Homo sapiens: one gene and its partners. The protein of the gene in region 1 binds, or shares a complex with, the protein of each later gene. Each region holds a gene or a part of one and is shown in the gene's direction. Other genes may lie near its edges.

Region 1 (7,027 bases):
CTGGACAGAGGGGCTGTTCAATGCTTGTGGCTGTGATAAGCAGGAGTTTCAAGATGCGTGGAAACTACCTAAGTGAGTAAAAAGTACATATTACCAACGTATATGAGTTCAGGAAAAATGGCACTAAATAGCTCCTCTTCCTCCATGTTTTACTAAGTCTCCAACAAAACACACAGGTTCTAAGAATATAGGTAGCTATTTCTGTGGTCACCGTTTCATATGTGTAGTGTGTTTATGCATATTTTCATAAATCTTATGTGAAATATGAAAACCTTGAATCAAATATTAGAAATAAATACTCCCAAATTCCTTTAAATATGTAAGGGTCAAGGCCAAGTTATATTAACTTTCCTAACAAATATAATTGTAGTGTATCAAAAATATTCTTAAATTTTCATTGGCATAATTTATTTGAGGTTAAATGCCATATATTAGCCCCTTTGCCTCCTTTTCCCTGCATGCCTAACATGCTATAAGGCACTTAGTAGGTGCTAAAGAAAGGTTTGAGAGTTTGTTGAATAACTCAATGAATAGATAAATGAAAAGTGGAGACATTAAATCTACAAGATGTAATGATGCAGCAAATCCTCACTTCAGGGTGCACCGTATGCAAGAATTTCAAGAGTGGGATGTCCTGGCAAGACATAGGGTGTGTGTGGAGGGGGCGTTGTTGTGTGTGAAGAGGGGTGGGGAGATTAAAAAAAAAAAAAACTTGTTCTGAGTTACCGAATGTTTTTGGTTAGCCAAATATTTCTCTTTTTACTTCCAAACCCAACGTTGGCACTAAGTTTGGTTACTTGAAAGCTATTTCATAGAAGGAAGCACCCAATAGATACATTATTCCAATTTGAATTAACATGTTGCACATCCCCAATAATTATGGGTGCCCCATCTCACTCTGAAGAGCAAGACATCTCTGTAACTATCTCCTCCCCATTTCCCTTCAGGATAGCGGTTGATGGGCCCTTTGGCACTGCCAGTGAAGATGTGTTCAGCTATGAGGTGGTGATGTTAGTGGGAGCAGGGATTGGGGTCACACCCTTCGCATCCATTCTCAAGTCAGTCTGGTACAAATATTGCAATAACGCCACCAATCTGAAGCTCAAAAAGGTAAGTCCTTTCATTTATCGGAGGGCCTTAGAGCAGTAACCATACTCTGCCATGTGAGGCCTGAGAGTGCTTTCAGGGCTAAGGTTGGCAGAGACCATGGGAAGTGAAGAAAAGCTTCCGGTGGTTCCAGAGAGACAGGCTTTTCTTCAAAAGAATATTTGTTAAATCTAATGTGCTTCTAGATAAGTAGGCCTATTAGTGAAGGGAATATATTGTATTTGTATAGTGTTGCTGGAAATTCAGAAGAAAGAAAGTTGGGAAAGTATTCACAGCCCCAACTTAATAGCTGTAATTTTTGTATATTCTCTTCTAATATTTTCCATGTTTACATATTTTTAGAAGGTTGTAAATATTAAGTATGTATAATTTCATGTCCTGCTTTTAAAAAAACATTATAGAAAGTGTTTTTCAATGTCTTCACAGGCTTTATAATGATGACTTTAAATGATCTCTTCATGTTCTATTGAGAGGATATTGAATAATTTTTCTTTCATCTTGTGTTAGATACTGAGATTGATTCAATTTCCAGCCGCGCCCCACCCCCTCCACTCACCCAATACTTTTTTTGCAAAGGGAGGAGAGGAGACCTGAAACTCTACTTATGAATATCTCCTCAGGATCAATTCACAGGAGATTTTTTGGTTACCTATAAATTTGGTTTTATTGTGTAATAAAGGGCATCCTAAATAAACCTCAGGCCATTCTAATAACTGTAAAGATAAACTCTAATAGGGACATTAAGCCTACCTTGACTTTTCATTCTCCCTGTACCTCTTTTCCATGTGGAGGAGATGTGCATAGAACCTTATTTTTCCCCTCGGAACTCATGAATGTCTGGCAGTAGCAGCCAGGGAAGAATTTCTGTGGCAATCCCTGCTAGTCTAGATTCCATCAGGCTTTCTGAGAAGAGGTTCGAAGGAAGCCAGAGATTCTGGGAGAGTAAGAGCAGACTCAGAGGGAAATTTGGTGGGCTAATAGTTTTTTCTTAAGTTGTGTATTTCTGAGGTCAAGTTACTTATTTACTGCCCTGCTAGAGTGAAGGCCAGAGCAGGTTCATGTAAACTACCCTGTGAAATGTCCAGAGCCTTCTGAAAATCTATGTTTCTAGGCATTCTGAGCATCAAGAAAAAGTTTAGGTGACAGAAAGTGGAATTCCACATGGTAATGCTGATAGGGCCTGCCAAATATAATCTGCTTCATGATCCACCCCATTTTCAGATCTACTTCTACTGGCTGTGCCGGGACACACATGCCTTTGAGTGGTTTGCAGATCTGCTGCAACTGCTGGAGAGCCAGATGCAGGAAAGGAACAATGCCGGCTTCCTCAGCTACAACATCTACCTCACTGGCTGGGATGAGTCTCAGGTAAGGACAAGACTCCAAGGCTCAGGTCCTTCCCATAGTGTACAGGGCTTACGAACTTCCCCTTGGTTATTGGTGTGTCTTGTGTACTATTTTTTCTAAGTATGTTTAGTGGATTTGGTGATCCGGTCCATTCACTCTCATTTAGTATCGCCACATTATATTTAGACTGCTCAGATTAGAATCAAAGCCAAGGAGCCTGTGAGGGAATAAAAGCCATCACTTTGACATTATTAGAGCAATTCTCCCACCAGGCACTCTGAAACCAGGTGATTGAGATGATGCACAGGGTTATTTTGGGGAAAATTTAGCTTTCTCTTTCTCTCTGTCTCTCTCTCTGTCTCTCTGTCTCTCTCTCTCTGTCTCTGTGTGTGTGTGTGTGTGTGTGTAAAACAGACACTCCCCAACTTAATAATGGTTCAACTTATGATTTTTCAACTTTACAATGAAGTGAAAGCAATATGCATTCAGTAGAAGCCATACTTCAGTACAAGCCATACTTCAGTACTGTATTCAATAAATTACATGTGGTCTTAAACCTTTTATTATAAATAGGGTTCATGTTAGATGATTTTGTGCAATTGTAGGCTAATATAAGTGTTCTGAGCACATTTAAGGTAGTCTAGACTAAACTAACTATGATGTTTATTAAGTTAGATGTATTAAACCCATTTTAGACTTATGGTATTTTCAATTTAGTGATGGTTTTATCAGGATATAACACCATTGTAAGCTGAGGAGCATCTGTTTATATAACATACATAAGCATATAAAGGATTCTGTATATATATATTTTAATATGTATTTATATATGTATCATATATATTTATATGTACTATGTATATATGTATTTATAAAATCATTTAATTTATATGCTTTTGTATGTTTTATAATATACTCACTACATTTATAATTATTATGCATATATATTGCCAGGTATTATTCTTATGTATCTAGTCACATAGATTGTCTAATTTTATCATGTCACCAACCCTATGAAGTAGCTCTTATTATTTTCCACACTTTACAGATGAAAAAACTCAGACCAGGTTAGGTCATTTTCCTAAGAGCACCCAACAAGTAAGTGACAGAGACAGAATGTGCCAGAGCCTGTCCTTTCAGCATCTTGCAGTAGTTCATGATTATCATTTATAAATAAATTACTATATATCTAATGAATGTGATATATATGCATGTATGTGTGTGTGTATGTGTGTGTACAATGAGAGTGCTCTTTCAAAAATGTTTGGAGACCACTATAATAAAGTAGCCAATAGTTCTCAACTGGGACAATTTTGCTCTGCTCCTCCCCAAGACACACACCAGAGACAGTTGGCAATGTAAATATCCTACAATTAAAAAGACAGCCCCCCACAACAAAGAATTATACAGTCCCAAATATCAACAGTGCTGAAATTGACAAACCCTGAAACAAGGTAATGATTCCTGGAGTGGTAACATCTTTGTAAGTAAGCAAACGTTAATGACTTGGCCTGGAAGCAGCATAAGCTATCACCATGAGTGAGGAGCTAAGGCAAGAGTCTCTGCATATTTCTGTCCAGTGTCTCAGCTGGTGTCTTAGTCCATTTGTGCTGCTATAACAAAACACCCAAGACTGGGTAGTTTGTAAAGAACAGAAATTTATTTTCTCAAAGTTCTGGAGGCTGGCAAGTCCAAGATCAAGACACCAACAGGTTTGGTTGTCTAGCAAAGGCTGCATCTTCTGGGTGGGAGAAATACTGTGTTTTCACATGGTGGAAAGAAAAAGGGAAGGCTCGTCAAATACTGTGTGATGACTCTTTTCCAAAGCCCTTAACTCATTCATAAGGGATGATCCTTCATGTCTTAATCACCTTTTTAAGGCTCCACTTCTTAATGCTATCACATAGGCAACATCTGAATTTTGGAGAGGATACATTCAAACTGTAGCAACTGGGCATACATAGACATTGACTCCACAACCCTGGGAATCTTCCATGTGCACCCTGTCACTGTGAAGACTGAATTCCCATTTGGGTTTCAACATATTGTTTATCACAGATTCTCCAAGTCTTAAAGGAATCTTGTAGCAAATATAGATTAGGGAAACATAACGATAAGAATTGTTGCTCCATAAAAAGTGGTTTCAAAATGCCAGTTCTGCAATTTAAAAACAAAACAAAAATGCTTTGATAAAAATAAAACTCAGGAAAAAAATCTATAGTATATAAATTGCTTTACTGTTCTGTTATTTTAAAAGCCATGCACAGGTTTCTTTTTTAAATCAGTTATTTATTTGTATTGAAAAAGTAATTATTTTGCTTTGCAAAACTGATATCTATAGAATTATTAAATTGGAGTGCCCACCTTTCTTAACCTCCTCTATGACCATCATCCATCTAGTGAATTTCAAATCTGATTTGCTTTTTAAAAATAAATTTAATTAACCACTTTTATGAAAAATACCTGTTGCTCAAACTGAAGCCTCCTAGAATGGTAGCAGAAAAACAGTATGTGACTATATACACATATGTGCGTGCACACACACACATACACACACACTAGCTTTAGGCTTGATTTGATGTCTTATGCTACCAAAGTATTGCTGCATTTTAGTCTAAAATTGTTACATCTCTTAGTAATTCTCCCAAAGGAGTGGAAGTATATTAGGGTGGAGAGAAAAAGTCAAACATAGAGCAGAGAGAAAAACAGTGAGACACTATTCATCCATCAATGCCTGACTCAAATACTGCGGCCCTAACCCTTCCCCTATTCTTCCACTTCACCTTCCTTCTTTGTTCTCATTAGGACGCTTGTGCCTCCTTCATGACACACATCATACCCTGTTCGACATATGGGATTATTTATATTTATACTTCGAAGTCTCCCTTTCTAGACTGTAAATTGCTTGAGAGAGATCCAGTTTATTTATCTTTGTTTACCTTTCAGCATCCAGCAGGGTGCCTTGGTTAGAATAGCTTGTGAAGGATGTAAATACATTGTATGTGCTTTTACAGAATGTCTCTTTTTTTTCTGAATTCATGTCCTTTCCTGTAGGCCAATCACTTTGCTGTGCACCATGATGAGGAGAAAGATGTGATCACAGGCCTGAAACAAAAGACTTTGTATGGACGGCCCAACTGGGATAATGAATTCAAGACAATTGCAAGTCAACACCCTAAGTAAGGAGTCTGTCACCAAGATGTTTTTGAGGCTTGCATCTGCCTAAAGCGGCAGCCCCTATACATATCTAAACTTATATATTTTAGAAACTCAAATATGTATATTACTATATAAAGATTGAATTCATGCCCAACAGAAGATTCCAGATATCTTCAACTTTAAGAAGGATCTTTAAATTATACCAAATTACCTGGAGATTAATTAAAAACAAGTATTTCCAGGTCCCCATCTCAGATTTTCTCAACCTGCCTGTCCCAAGTAGGGCCACAGCTTAGTTCTTTTCTTTAGTCACCTAAATTTCATTAGTGTATCTACTTCTTTTAAAGATTCAATATAATTTATACATATTGTTAAGAAGACACTGTCCCCACTTTCAGTTCTAAAAGCTTCTGGGTCTAAAATCTTAAGTTGACAGATGTCTCAAGGTGCTTTCTGCTCTCACTAAAACTTTAGTCATTATAAAACCTTGAGGGGGATCCCTTATCTTGCTAGAACACCTAAGAAACTCAAGAGATCACCATACGTGTACCCTTCAGACTATTGCTTTTTGCACTGTAAGGAGCATACAAAGTGCCTGGGGATCTCTTTAAAATGCAGATACCAATTTAGAAGATTTGAGGTAGGGCCAGGTAATCTGCATTTTTTAAAAAGCTGACGCCAAGGCTACTGATCAGAAACCACACTTTGAACAGGGCTTCAGACTCTAAAATTTAGAGAAATGAAGCCACACTGAGTGGTTGGCATAGTTAGCTTGTTCCTAATTTCAAGATGCCAGGGGGCACAGAGCCCTGAAGGAAAGTAGCCCACGGACTCATGAATTCACCACCATTTTCTCTGTGATAGAAGTTTCCAAAAACCTTGGTTGGATTTTACTTTTGCCAGGGAAGTCAACTACCTTTTGAACTATCCAGATGCTCACACAAACAGGCTGAACCACACTCCCTCTGAGCAATATGATCCCTTTGCTATTTGTGGAAAAGAAAAAGGAGCAGAGGGGACTCTGCCCTGGGGCCTCAAATTAACGGGAAATTCACCTACCTGCTTTGTAGACATCTCATCCCAAAGCTTGAAATTGTCTTTTTTTTTCTTTCCCAAAAGTACCAGAATAGGAGTTTTCCTCTGTGGACCTGAAGCCTTGGCTGAAACCCTGAGTAAACAAAGCATCTCCAACTCTGAGTCTGGCCCTCGGGGAGTGCATTTCATTTTCAACAAGGAAAACTTCTAACTTGTCTCTTCCATGAGGAAATAAATGTGGGTTGTGCTGCCAAATGCTCAAATAATGCTAATTGATAATATAAATACCCCCTGCTTAAAAATGGACAAAAAGAAACTATAATGTAATGGTTTTCCCTTAAAGGAATGTCAAAGATTGTTTGATAGTGATAAGTTACAT
Region 2 (7,027 bases), on another chromosome or scaffold:
GGAGCCCTGGGATGGCCCTCCCAGCATTCGTTGGGCTTCCCCGTCTCTGATATTTGTCAGGCCCCTCACCCCGTGTCTGGCCTTCCGCCAGCTGTGGGGGCAGGATCAGGCATGTACTCCTTGGTGGCCCCAGCGCTGGCTCTGCACCCGATGCATAGTAGGTGCCTAGCAAGTGCATCTGGAGGCTCGTTCGATGGCCCTGCAGGGCTCTCTGGGTCTGGCGGGAGACATTGGGAGTCAAGGTCAGTGCCTCACACCATCTCCTCGGCAGCATGTGTCTTTCTACCGTTTGCCGTGGCCCTTCCCATGGCCAGTGACTAACAGCTTTCACGCACACTCTGGGGTGGGCTGAAAGGCCCCGGAAGCAGCCCTCTTTCCCTGGAAGATGGGAGATGAATGACAGCACCCTAGCTTCCTGCCTTCTCTGGGGACGCCCTGAGCACGGTCCGTTCTGTCTCCCAGGTGGCCCCAGCAGGACTGAGAGCAGCAGCAGTCCACAGCCATGACAACTCAACCACCTGCCCTGTGTCAGCTGCTGTCCCCTCCTTTATTCCTCCCCACTCCCCTTCTGCAGCATCCTGGAGTCACTTCCCGAATAAACCCCTCACATCACCTCCTTGTCTCAGGGTTTGCTTCTGGGGGGACCCAGCCTGAGACGGGATGAACATTCATTCGACAAAATATTGCGGCTGGGCGCAGTGGCTCACGCCTGTAATCCTAGCACTTTGAGAGGCCGAGGCGGGCGGATCACTTAAGTTCAGGGGTTCGAGACCAGCCTGGTCAACATGGTGAAACCCTGTTTCTACTAAAAATACAAAAATTAGCTGGGCGTGGTGGTGCATGCCTGTAATCCCAGCTACTTGGGAGGCCGAGGCAGGAGAATCACTTGAACCCAGGGGGCAGAGTTTGCAGTGGGCCGAGATGGTGCCACTGCACTCCAGCCTGGGCGACAGAGCGTGATTCCATTTCAAAAAACAAACAAACAAACAAAAAACAACAAAAAGCAAACATTGAGTGGCAGCATAGGGAGAGAGGTAAGTTTATTCTCATCAAGACTGGGAGGAAAAGTTACACAGCCTCAATTACCTTTCCAAAGGACAGGTACGGGTAGGAAAAGGATTAAGAGACAATCTTTTTTTCTTCTTGTTAACTTGTATTACATTTTTAAAAAATATAATGAATCAGTAATGAAACAAATAAAGAAACCCAATTGCAAATGCTGTGTGACTTTGGGCCAGTCGCAGACTGTCTCTAGGTCTCAGCCTCCGAGGAATGACATGGAGCTGGACCACAATTCCCAGGTTCTGGGGTTTGAGATTGACCTTACCTCCGCCTTGCCTGCTCCCCACAGGTTTGACAACTATTCAGCCAATGTGATGGTGGACAGCAAGCCAGTGAACCTGGGGCTGTGGGACACTGCTGGGCAGGAGGACTACGACCGTCTCCGGCCGCTCTCCTATCCACAGACGGTGTGCTGCTCCCACCTGCCTTGCAGTCCTGACCTTTGCTGTCTCTGTTCCCTCTGCTTGGGATGCCCTTCCAGCCAGCTCAGCCTGGGAAACCCTACCTCTCCCCTTAAGGCCCAGCTCAGGGAGTCTGCCTGCCTTGCATGTCCCAGGCAGAGAAGGGCTTCCTCTTGCACTCCCTCAGCCCTGCATTGGTTCCCGGTCCTCAATGTGCCCATCTTCCCACCCCATTGCCTCCTGGGCTCTGGCACCCCCTGTTTCCAGTGGTGGGGCAGGTGGATTCTGCACAGGGCCCCAGGAGGCAGCCCAGCATGGTGAGCCCTGGGAGTGCTGGGGGAGGGGAGAGGTGGAGGATGCCTGCAGGTGGCTGCTGGGTCCTCGCCCTTCCTCCAGGGTATGCAGGGAGGCGGCTAAGGCCGGTAATCAGATGGTGGATAGTATATGGATTGGAGTATGGACTCTAGAATCCCAGATCCTCCCCTCACCAGAGTGCACGTTGGCAAACTCTTTAACCTCTGGAAGCCTCACTTTCCCTGTCTGAGGAATGGGGCTACCAGCAGTGCTTGCTGCAGAGTGACATGTGAGGATAACCACTTCGCAGAGGCCCTGGCCTTTAGTGAGCGTCCTAACAAACAGCAGCCTCGTGGTAGAGGCGAGAAGGGTATCTCTGCTCTGCCCAGATCCTAAGTCCCCAGCATTCCCTGGGGTGTTCCACCCTCAGGGAGCCCCAAGCTCCACCTCTCGGTGGCTGCCATGGTGGGACACCTCTGGGCCCTCCTCACTAGCAACCTCGCTTGCTCTGTCCCCAGGACGTCTTCCTCATCTGCTTCTCCCTCGTCAGCCCAGCCTCTTATGAGAACGTCCGCGCCAAGGTGAGCTGGACAGGGTGGGCCTTGGGGGCTCTGGGGCAGGTAACCCTGAGGGACAGAGGGAGGAACTGGTGACTCTAGGCTGGTCCCTGGGGCAGCAGAGGTCGCATACAGAGAGGGTCCCCAGTGCCAACCAGGGCTGGCAGAGGGACTTGAGGGGGTAAGATTCAGAGGACCTGGGGTGGGGGGTGCTGCGATAGTTAGCTATACCCCCACTTTCCATGGCTGCATTCTCCTCCTCCCCACACAACCTCATGTCCGCCTCCGATTGTCACATAACCTCATGTTTGCTTCTTATGTCTGCACAAAACCTCGCCTCCTCCTTTCCTACAATCATGCGCCCCCTCCTTCCTGCACAACGTCGTGGCCTCCCCTCCCTGTGCCACCTCACGTCTCTCTCTCCTCACCGTCGTGCCCACCTCTGATCTTCTGGCAACTTGCTGCCTCTCCTCTCCCTACACCCTCACACTCCCTCTGATCCCCGCACAGCCTCGCGCCCCCTCTTGACCCATACAACCTTGTGTCCCCCCACCCACCTGCCCAGTGGTTCCCAGAAGTGCGGCACCACTGCCCCAGCACACCCATCATCCTGGTGGGCACCAAGCTGGACCTGCGGGACGACAAGGACACCATCGAGAAACTGAAGGAGAAGAAGCTGGCTCCCATCACCTACCCGCAGGGCCTGGCACTGGCCAAGGAGATTGGTATGGGCCTCGGGCTCAGAGGGGCGATCTGGCTGCAGGGGAGGCCCTGACTTGGCCTCGTGGTGTGATTGTAAACACGGGCTGCAGGGCCAGGCTGTGCAGTTTGAACTCAGCTGTGCTGTGCACTTGCTGTGTGACCTTGGGCGAGTCACGTAGCCTCTCTCTGCCTGTGTTTCCTTATCAGAAAAGCATGGGATAGTGATAGCTCCTGCCTCCTGGGGTGGTTGGGGGAATTCAGTAACTTATTCCAGGTGGAGCTGCCAGGGCAGCACCTGTGTGTGAGAAGCACTCTGTGTTAGTAGTAGTCGTCCTAGTAGTATGAGTAGTATCTATTAATAGATACTGAAAATAAGGAGGTGTGCTTTGAGCAGACAGAAGCAGAGATTGAGTGGGGGTGCTGTGGTTGCTTGGAGGACAAGTGGCAAGTCAAACTTGGGTGTTCTGGGAAGGCTTCCTGGAGGAGGTGGCGCTGCATTAGATCTAAAGGGTGACACATTTCCTTCCACCACCTTCTCTCCTCCCTTTCCCCACTCCCTTTGGTTTCTCAGCTCGACCCCTCTTTGCCTCCAAATCACTGGGCTGGAGAAATATAGTAACTTCTCAAGGTCACCCAGCTAGTAGGTGGCCCAGCCAGATTTGAAGGAAGGACAGCAAATTATTGGCTCACTGCTGGGGGGTGCTTCTTTGTAGTGGCTCAGGGCTGCCTGCATCAGGGAGGCGATGACCATGGGTCTGGCTTCATGCATGGTACCCAGGCCTGCTGGCTGTTCCTGTCCCTGTCCCTGGTAGGTCCCAATGTGTCTGTAGCTCAGGGATCCTTGCCCAAAAGCCCAAAACCACCAGCTGGGTTTGGTCATATGAGCTGTGCCCTCTGCCTCACCACAGGACTCTGCAGGCCCAGGGTTTGGCCCCCAAATTGAATCCACTAGACCTCCTCCCGCCCCACCGCCCCAGCCCCGCCCCACCTCCCCCTGCCGGAACTGGGAGGGCCCTGGGGACTCACATCTCTTCACAGGAAGAGAAACCGCAGCCACCACCTCCCTCCTTCTGTGACTAGCGTGGTGACACAGCCATCTTCCCCGGGGGCCTCAGACTATGGCTCACACCCTGGCTCCCTTCCCCTGTCCTAGGGCCACAGCTCCCCAGCCTGCAAGTCTTTCCTTTTAAATATCAAGGATTCATCCCTGCCTTCTCTTTCTGACCAACCAGCACCCCTCCAACCCCTGCCCCTGGACTCCTTCTATTCAGGGTGCAGCTCTCCAGCCTGTGGCCTGGCTGTCACTGACCTCTCCCTTGTAAAGCACATGCTTTGGGATCATGTGGAGGGTGCTGGAGGCCTGGATTCTGGTCCTGGCTCTGATACTGATTGGCTGTGTGACCTTGGGTTAGTGGCTGCCCCTCTCTGGGCCTCAGTCTCCCTCTCCACATAAGCTGACCTGGACAATCCCCAAAGGCCCTCTCTCCTCCATAAGGTGGTGACTCAGAGTTCTTGCCTTGGCCTCTAGCCAGTCTTTCCTGGCTGACCCTGCATGGAGCTGGGGCAGGGGCAGTGATTTTAACTGTGCCTCAGACCAGCTTAGGCCTAGGGGGAGTCCTGGGGGGACTGGCAGGGATAGTGAGGGAAGCAGCAACTGCCTCTGCCCACCTGGACTCCCCAGCCCTGGGATGACAAGTTTTGGGGGCAGCCCTGAGCCCAGCTGATAATCACAGCTGATGTGGACTGAGCACTTCCTGGGAGCCACTTCATTCTCACAGCAGCTATGACGAAGAGCTCTTGTCACCTTCACTTTACAGAGAGGAAACAGGCTCGGGGGGACATGTTGCTGGCTTAAGGCCACCCAGCCAGGATTCTGACAGGGGTGGACTGGCTCCCTAAGCCACAAAGCTGAGGGCCATCTGTCCTCCCTGCACCTCCACTGCCCCCACCGCCCCCTCACCCTCCTTGCCCTCTCTGTAGCTCCCCTGCCCCCTGCCTCAGCTTGATGAGCCATCGCATGGCAATGAGTCCTAGACAGATGGGAGACTGAGGCCCGGAGAGGGGGAACTGACTAAAGTCCTAGAGCAGTGAGAGGCCGAGCCAAAGTGAGCCCTGGCCCCCCAGCTCAGGACCCTTGTCCTGGGTGAGTGGGTGGCTGGGTGCCAGGGAAAAGGCAGTTGGTGGATGTGGGGGAAGTGGACGCAGATGTGGTCCCTTATAAGGAGACAGTGGCCAAGTGCCCAGTGACACCTCCTCAACACAGGGGGCTGTGGTGACCAGACTCCGGGCTGAGCTCAGGGCACCCTGCTCTTGCCAGCCAAGCCCCATGACAACCACTGCCCATGATCCCTGGTGGGCGTATATGCCTCCAGGTAGAGGGGAGACGCCCAGCATGTGACTCAGAGCGAGTGACATCCTCTCTGAGCCTCAGGCTCCTCGTCCCTGCCCCACCCTTCCTTTCTCCCCAGCACCTGGCCTCAGTGGGCTCCCCTGTTCCAGGGGCTGCCCCTCCTGCCATCCCGACTTCTCCCCCCAGCTCTGTGCCTTCGGGCCTTGGCTTCCCCACTCTGGGCCTGTTTCCTGGTCTGTGAAATGGGAACTCACCCCGGTGTTGTTGGAAGCACCCAGCTCAGTGCCTGGCACAGGGTAGGTGGTGACCAGCGTCCATCCCCTTCCATCCTGCCACAGAGAAGCAAGCGGGCTTTGGCGGAGGGCCCAGAGTTCCCCTCCCCTCCCTTCTCCTTCCTCTTGGTTCTGACATCGGCCCCCAGGCCTGCATAGCATCTCGGCAGAAGGGGTTTTGTGGTTTTTCACTTCAGGGAAACTGTGCAGCTTGAAATGGACATGGGAAGTCACACGGACTCTTTGCAGAATGTCATGGAACGCCGTCCCTGGGGGTGGGAACTAGGCCTGCCTTTCTCCTCATCTGTGCCCCGGGCTCTAGCCCTGAGGGGTCTTCATGTGGGAGAAGGCTGGGCCTCCCATGGCAGGACAGAGGAGCTCTCCAATGCCACTCCTCCCAGAAGGCCCCCAGCTGGGCCCAGGTTGAGGGAATACATCCAGCGTGTGAGTTTGGATGAGTCGCATACTCTCCAGGAGCCTCAGTTTCCTTGTCTGTAAGACAGGGACGGTGCTAAGGAAGGGGCTGATGATGTTGGGAAGTTCCTGGGGAGGGGGCCCTGAGGGCTTCAGGCCTCCTGGGGATTATTTGCAACCCTGGGAGAATCCTGGAGGGATGGGCAAGACAATTTTCTAGAAGGTGAGGCTCCCAGAGATTTGGTCACTGATGCTTGAGCCCTTTCCTTCACAGAAAAGCATCAAAATTCCCGCCCTCCTTCCACGGACTAAGGGCTATGTGTCCAAGAAAGACACAGACCTGCCCTGGAGGCCTTAGTCTCTCACTGAGTTCACGCTCGCTATTACAGACATGAGGAAACTGAGGCACGGTGACGTTAAACTCCTTGCTCCTGGTGACACAGCCTCCAGGTGACCCCACTGGGACTGGATGGCGGCCCCCAGAGCCTGGTGTTCAGTTGTATGGCTTGGGAGGGGGTGTACGGCATGGAGGGGTGTATGGCGTGGGAGGGGGTGTATGGGGTGGGAGGGGTTGTATGGCATAGGAGGGGTGTATGGCGTGGGAGGGGTGTATGGTGTGGGAGGCGTGGGAGGGGTATATGGCGTGGGAGGCATGGGAAGGGGTGTATGGCGTGGGAGGGGGTGTATGGCGTGGGAGGGGTGTATGGCATGGGAGGCGTGGGAGGGATGTATGGCGTGGGAGGGGGTGTATGGCGTGGGAGGGCTTGTATGGCATGGGAGGCATGGGAGGAGTGTATGGTGTGGGAGGGGTGTATGGCGTGGGAGGGGTGTATGGCGTGGGAGGGTGTATGGCGTGGGAGGGGTATATGGCGTGGGAGGGGTGTATGGCGTGGGAGGGGTGTATGGCGTGGGAGGCGTGGGAGGGGTGTATGGCATGGGAGGGTGTATGGCGTGGGAGGGGTGTATGGCGTGGGA
Region 3 (7,027 bases), on another chromosome or scaffold:
GGGTGGAGTGGTGTGATCACAGCTCACTGCTGCCCTGAATTCCTGGGCTGAAGGGATCCTCTTGCTTCAGCCTCCTGAGTAGCTGGGACTACAGGCAAGAGCCACCACTTATTTTTGAATTTTTTGTGGAAACAAGGTCTCCCTATGTTGCCCAGGCTGGTCTTGAACTCCTGGGCTCAGCGATCCTCCCACCTCAGGCCCCTGTGCTGGGATTATAGCCTCCTGTGCTGGGATTACAGGCCTAAGCCACTGCACCAGGCTTTTATTTTTTAATTTAAAAAAATTTATTTTTTTGAGACAGGGTCTCACTTTGTCCCTCAGACTGGATGCACTGGTGCAATCTTGTTTCACTGCAGCCTTGACCTCCCTCCTGGGTTCAAGTGATCCTCGTGCCTCAGCCCCCCAAGTAGCTGAGACTACTGCTGCACACCGCCACACCCACCTAATTTTTGTATTTTTAGTAGAGAACGGGTTTCTCCATGTTGGCCCAGCTGGTCTTGAACTCCTGGGCTCAAGCGATCCACCCACCTCAGCCTCCCAAAGTGCTAGGATTACAGGCATGAGCCACCATGCCTGGCCTAAAAATATTTTTTTCAGCTCTAGAAATGTTAGCTCTTTTGCTGTACATTTCCAGAGCTGCTTTAATAATGACAGTTATCACACGCATAATTTCATGTGATGATTGCATTCTTAATTTTTAAATTTAACAACTGCACTTACTTCATGAGGTCTTGTTCATTGATACATCTTTAGCACCTAGTGTGCTTCTGGTGTAGCACACGGTTGATATAAATTGAAATTGAATTAATGCTCACAGTAGTTTGGGGATGGAGCTGGTAGTTCTGCATTAATTTTGCAGGTGAAAAAAAAAGGCATGAGGAAGTTGAAACTTGCCAAAAAATACAGCCAGTACGTGCTAGAATTGGCCCTGGGTCTCAAATCTGGGCTTCTGACTCCAAAGCTTAGGCTCCTGCTCATACAGGTTTATTTTCACATTCTAAGCTTTTAACGAAATGTATGTCCAATGAGTCATTTCTGTTTAGAAAGCCTTTAGGAGTTGGAAGCTACTTCCTGGTGATGTAATGTTTGACTCTCTAAAGTCTTTGGAATGGGGAGTTCCAACTTTTGTTAAGCCCTCAATAATGTCATGAGTGAATGAATATTGGCAAGACTGGCTGGGCCTGTAATCTGCCTTGAGTGTGAGGGAAAATGGAAAAGCGCTTAACTTTATGGTGAATTCTAATTTATAGTAGTTGAGATTGAACGACAAAAATCTTAAAATTATGATGCTGATGTGTCATTGTGACCTTGGTAAACTGACAGCACAGCAGAGAGAAGGGCTCATTAAGGAGAGCACTTGGCTAACTGAACCCTCAGGATGCCAGAGACTTGAATTCTCATGTAAGCCCTTAAGCTTGCCTTGTCAATGCTGTAAAAATTGGAGACCTTTATGTTTTGCTAATGATGTGGTGACCTTAGTTATTAGGTGATAGCCTCTTGAAAAACATTCCAGGTGGTTGGGAGACTTTCAGCCACCACTCTTCTGCCTGGCGGCACACTGGTAATATTAGGATTAGTCTCTACCCATTGCCAGTTGTGCAGGTGGTGCTCCTTTCTCTGAAGTATTTCTACACACTTCTCTGTTTGGCAAGTTTAACTCCCATCGTCTCTGAGCTGTTAATTAAATGTCTGGGATGTATTGTGATAGTCCCTGCTTATAGACTTATGGTGCTGTGTGAGGATTGGGGCTGGGGGAGGTGGCATTTAAATACAGCTGAATCAATGTGATGGCAGTTACGTGTGGTAGTTTATTGACTAAGCACTTTCTCTCAAGAGAACAGTCATTGCTGATTGCCATAGGGGAGGCTGTAGGGATGTGGTGGGATTTTGAGCTGTCCCACTTAAGGCAGCAGAATAAGTTACTTAAAGAGGAAGGCTGTGTTTGTATATTAGTGTTAATTAAAATACCTTTAGGCTGGGTGTGGTGGCTCCAGCCTGTAATCCCAGCACTTTGGGAGGTCCAGGTGGGCGGATCACTTGAGGTCAGGAGTTCGAGACCAGCCTGGCCAACATGGCGAAAACCCATCTCTACTAAAAATACAAAAAAATTATCCAGGCGTGGTGGTGGACAGCTGTAATCCCAGCTACTTGGGAGGCTGAGGCAGGAGAATCGCTTGAACCTGGGAGGCAGAGGTTGCAGTGAGCCAAGATGGTGCCTCTGCACTGCACTCCAGCTGGGGCGACAGCACGAGACTCGGTCTCAAAAAAAAAAAAAAAAGAAAAAAAAGAAAAAAAGAAAATATCTTCAGGATCAAACTTAAGATTCTTGATGAGAGGCTCTACAGATGTTCACAGAAGAGACGTGAAGTTTTAAAATCTTGTTTCTCTTGAGTCTTGTAGCTAGGTGACAACTGTTTCTTGACTATTAATGCTAACACCGGGTACCTAAACAGAATGTGATGGCTCCTGACTCTATCTTTCTGAGAAATTCTAGTTTGTTTACTTTAAATTTCAGGGTACCAATGTGTATGTGGTGATAAAGGGTTATAGAAAACATTTTCTTTAATGCTAAGTATGTGATGTATATGCCTTGATTTTTTTTCTCTAGAAATTATTTTAACTTAATAGTGAAAGCTAAGATTACATTCATGTTGACTAAGCAACCTTTTTTCTCTTTCTCTTTAGAGCTGTAGGTAAAACTTGCCTACTGATCAGTTACACAACCAATGCATTTCCTGGAGAATATATCCCTACTGTGTAAGTATCTTAAATTGGGAATTAACCTGTTTGTGTTACGGGTTTCACATTTCTTTGACCATTTGTTTTGCTGTAAAGCCATCTTTAATCCTCATATGAACAGATACTAATTTTTTCTTAAACATTCACTGAAACCTAATTATAAGGTATATTAGGCTTTTAAAAAATAGGGCTGGGGGTGGTGATCTCAGCACTTTGGGAGACTGAGGCGGGTGGATCAACTGAGGGTCAGGAGTTCGAGACCAGCATGGTCAACGTGATGAAACCCCATCTCTACTAAAAATACAAAAAATTAGCCAGGTGTGGTGGCGGGTGCCTGTAATCCCACATACTTGGGAGGCTGAGGCAGGAGAATCACTCGAACCGTGGAGGCGGAGGTTGCAGTGAGCCAAGATCACGCCACTGCACTCCAGCCTGGGCAATGAGAGCGAAACTCCATCTCAAAAGAAAAAAAAAAAAGAAACTTAGGGTAATATAAACTTTTCACAACTTTGCTAGTTGATTTTTAGACATCCAGAAAGCAAACTTTAACTGTCTGTGAGGTACAGAGACTGGATGATGTTAAAGAAAACCATAGTTGGACACAAGAACTCTGACCAAAAGTCTGATCAGAAACAGTCCTTGTCAGTGCACGAGTTTCAGATACACTGGCTTTCTGGGAACTGGAAAGGGAAAGATTCCATTACGTTTTAATTGGCCTTTTCTGATAAGTCATCAGTTGGTTACATGTCCGCATTGAGGTGTAGGGCTTTGGAATTGAAACTTGGGTGTGTGTGTTGAAGGGGGAATGGGAGGGTGGAATTGGCTATTGAATTGCTTACTCCCTATAGGCAGCAGAATTGGGTGGAGACAGGAAAGTGCTGCTCTGGTGATGGGTTACCCGGGAGCGCACGTAGCTGAGCCTCATAATGCACCATCCTGCAGCTGCTGTGAGTCCTCCCTGTGCAGGCTGGGGAGGTGTCGCCTCCTCCCCACCTGTGTTCACCTCCTCAGGCACAACACACACCCAGGTGCTCTCTGAAGTGTCGTACCCATGTTTTTGTTGTTGTTGTTGTTGTTTTCCTTTTTTTTTTTTTTTTTTGGAGTTAGTCTCTCTCTCTTGCCCAGGATGGAGTGCTGTGATGCGATCTCAGCTCACTGCAGCGTCTGCCTCCTGGGTTCAAGTGATTCTCTGCCTCAGCCTCCCAGGTAGCTGTGATTACAGGCATACACCACCACACCTGGCTAATTTTTGTTTCTTTAGTAGAGACGGGTTTCACCATGTTGGCCAGGTTGGTCTCAAACTCCTGACCTCAGGTGATCTGCCCACTTCAGCCTCCCAAAGTGCTGGGATTACAGGCGTGAGCCACGGCACCCATTTTTTACTGTAAGTGGAATCATGCTGTCCCTGTTGTCCTAAATTTATGGGGGAGATTTTCCTTATCTACATATGTAGATAAAGGTTTAATCATTAATGATTAATGATTTTGAAGTACTATAACTGATTTAACCCACTGGTCACTTGGACTCTTGGTGTTAACAAACATTGCTGGGTTCAGTGTTGTCCCTTATGTCTTTGTGTACACTTGATAGATTATTAGAAGCAAAATCGTGCCAAATCAAAAGACAATGGATGTTTTAAATTTTGGTAGATACAGCTGGGCGTGATTGCTCACGCCTGTAATCCCAGCACTTTGGGAGGCCAAGACGGAAGGATCACTTGAGGTCAGGAGTTCGAGACCAACCTGGCCAACATGTTAAAACCCCCACCTCTGCTAAAAATACAGTAGTTAGCCGGGTGTGGTGGTGCACTCCTGTAGTCCCAGCTACTCAGGAGGCTGAGGCATGAGAATTGCTTGAACCCGGGAAGCAGAGGTTGCAGTGAGCCAAGATTGTGCCACTGCACTTCAGCCTGGGTAACAGAGTGAGACTCTGTCTCCCAAAAAAAAAAAAAAATTAAAAAATTATTTTTTGGTAGATAACTACCAAATTGCTGTCTATAAAGCTGTCACTTTGCTGGCCTTGACTTAAGTGGCCTCTTAGTACACACTGCCATTAACGTGGGTTGAAGTTATCTAACCGTTTTCATTTCCAATCACAGATGTGGTTAAAATCTTTTGAATTTTTTTTTTTTTTAATTAAAAAAGTTTGCTCACGCCTGTAATCCCAGCACTTGGGGAGGCTGAGCTGGGCGGATCACTGAGGTAAGGAGTTTGAGACCAACTTGGCCAAGATGGTGAAACCCTGTCTCTACTAAAAATACAAAAATTAGCTGGGCATGGTGGCACATGACTATAATCCCAGCTATTCGGGAGGCTGAGGCAGGAGGATTGCTTGAACCTGGGAGGTGGAGGTTGCAGTGAGCCAAGATTGTGCCTCTGCACTCCAGCCTGGGCAACAGAACAAGACATTGTCTCCAAAAAAGAAAAAAAAAATATGTGTTTTTGTAGAGCTATGTTTTGCTATATTGCCCAGGCTGGTCTTGAAGACCTGGCCTCAGGTGATTCTCCACCTTGGTCTCCCGAAGTGTTGGGATTACAGGCGTGAGCCACCACACCTGGCTCTTTTGAATGTTTACTGTACATTTTTAGTCTCTTGTGAATTGTCTGTTTAAATCTTTTGTATTTTTCTACTGAAATTTTTTCTTACTGATGGAACATTTCCTTCCTTCCTTCCCTCCCTCCCTCTCTCCCTCCCTTCCTCCCTTCCTTTCTTCCCTCCCTCCTCCTCTCCCTCCCTCTCTCCCTCCTTCCCTCCTCTCCTACTCCTTCCCTCCTTCCCTCCTTCCTTCTCCTTTCTTTTCCCCTCCCTCCCTTGCTCCCTCCCTCCCTCCCTTTTTTTTTTTTTTTTTTTTTGAGATGGGGTCTTGCAGTATTGCCCAGGCCGGACTTGAAGTACTGGTCCTTCCACCTCAGCCTATTGAGTAGCATGCTCCACTGCACGTAGCCTGATGGAACGTTTTGTAAATAATCCTCAGTCTGTCATTTGTCTTTGTACTTCATTATGGTGTCTTCTGCCATATAGAAATTTAGCATTTAATGTAAATAATACCACCTTACCCGGGCACGGTGGCTCACACCTGTAATTCCAGCACTTTGGGAAGCTGAGGTGGGCGCATTATGAGGTCAGGAGATCAAGACCAGCCTGATCAACATGGTGAAACCCCATCTCTACTAAAAATACAAAAATTAACCGGGCATGGTGGCGTGCACCTGTAATCCCAGCTCCTCAGGAGGCTGAGGCAGGAGAATCACTTGAACCCAGGAGGTGGAGGTTGCAGTGAGCCGAGATCGCACCACTGCACTCCAGCCTGGGTGACAGTGAGATTCTGTCTCAAAAAAAAAATAATAATAATAATGATAATACCACCTCTCCCTCAGAATTGTATGTTGTACTTAGAAAGGCCTTTCCTACTTAAATAATGCAAAAGTATGCTCTAGTATTTTTTTCTAGGATTTTTGTGGCTAAAATTTTTATCTTTAATTCATTTAGGACTTATTTTTGGTATAGAATGAGGCAAGGACCTGATTCTTTTTCCCTTATGGGGAAAAAAAGTCACAATACTATTTATCCAATAATTTTTTTCTTATGGAAATATAATTAACATGTCCATCACCATCACACCTTTTCTTTCTTCTTCTTCTTTTTTCTTGAGACCGAGTTTCGCACTTGTTGCCCAGGCCGGAGTGCAGTGGCGCAACTTGGCCCACTGCAACCTCTGCTTCCCGGGTTCAAGCGATTCTCTTGCCTCAGCCTCCCAAGTAGCTGGGACTACAGGTGCCTGTCACCACGCCCTGGCTAATTTTTGCATTTTTAGTAGACACAAAGTTTCGTCATGTTGGCCAGGCTGGTCTCGAACTCTTGACCTCAGGTGATCCGCCCACCTCGGCCTCCCAAAGTGCTGGGATTACAGGCGTGAGCCACCGTGCCCAGCCTCTGCTTTTTATTATATTTTTCCTTTTTTTTTTTTTCTTTTTTGCCTTCCTGTGCAGAGGAAACACTATTTTCTTCTAAAGCTTGGTTTCTGCTGACCAGTAGCAATTTTTAACATCAGTCTGATTTCCCTCTGTCAGCCTATAGGCTTTGCTGGGTTATCTCTCCTGACTAATTTGTGTAGCAACTTCACATGAATTTAAACATTTGTATCATCAGTTAACACTCACTTTGAAAATGTTATTGGGAGGCTTGTTAAGTCAGGTGTATTTTGTGTGACTGCTCTACACTCAGGCCTTCTGGAAACCCTGCAGAGGGTAGCTCTAGTGGCCAGCTAGCTCTCTTGCTGAAAATGAGC

The links. Proteins that work in one complex are often made in the same cells at the same time.
Region 2: CYBB (region 1) and RAC2 share a complex: the UniProt entries of both Homo sapiens proteins name them as parts of the phagocyte NADPH oxidase complex.
Region 3: CYBB (region 1) and RAC1 share a complex: the UniProt entries of both Homo sapiens proteins name them as parts of the phagocyte NADPH oxidase complex.

Annotation. Positions count from the first base shown.
Region 1 is NC_000023.11:37,804,059-37,811,085, forward strand, and holds part of CYBB (NADPH oxidase 2), read left to right. Parts: coding exon 1-72; intron 73-947; coding exon 948-1,110; intron 1,111-2,328; coding exon 2,329-2,475; intron 2,476-5,508; coding exon 5,509-5,633; intron 5,634-6,732; coding exon 6,733-6,859; 3' UTR 6,860-7,027. UniProt on the Homo sapiens protein: Catalytic subunit of the phagocyte NADPH oxidase complex that mediates the transfer of electrons from cytosolic NADPH to O2 to produce the superoxide anion (O2(-)).
Region 2 is NC_000022.11:37,227,243-37,234,269, reverse strand, and holds part of RAC2 (ras-related C3 botulinum toxin substrate 2), read left to right. Parts: intron 1-1,351; coding exon 1,352-1,469; intron 1,470-2,275; coding exon 2,276-2,338; intron 2,339-2,879; coding exon 2,880-3,039; intron 3,040-6,326; coding exon of another isoform or gene 6,327-6,364; exon of another isoform or gene 6,365-6,531; intron 6,532-7,027. UniProt on the Homo sapiens protein: Plasma membrane-associated small GTPase which cycles between an active GTP-bound and inactive GDP-bound state.
Region 3 is NC_000007.14:6,384,527-6,391,553, forward strand, and holds part of RAC1 (ras-related C3 botulinum toxin substrate 1), read left to right. Parts: intron 1-2,685; coding exon 2,686-2,757; intron 2,758-7,027. UniProt on the Homo sapiens protein: Plasma membrane-associated small GTPase which cycles between active GTP-bound and inactive GDP-bound states.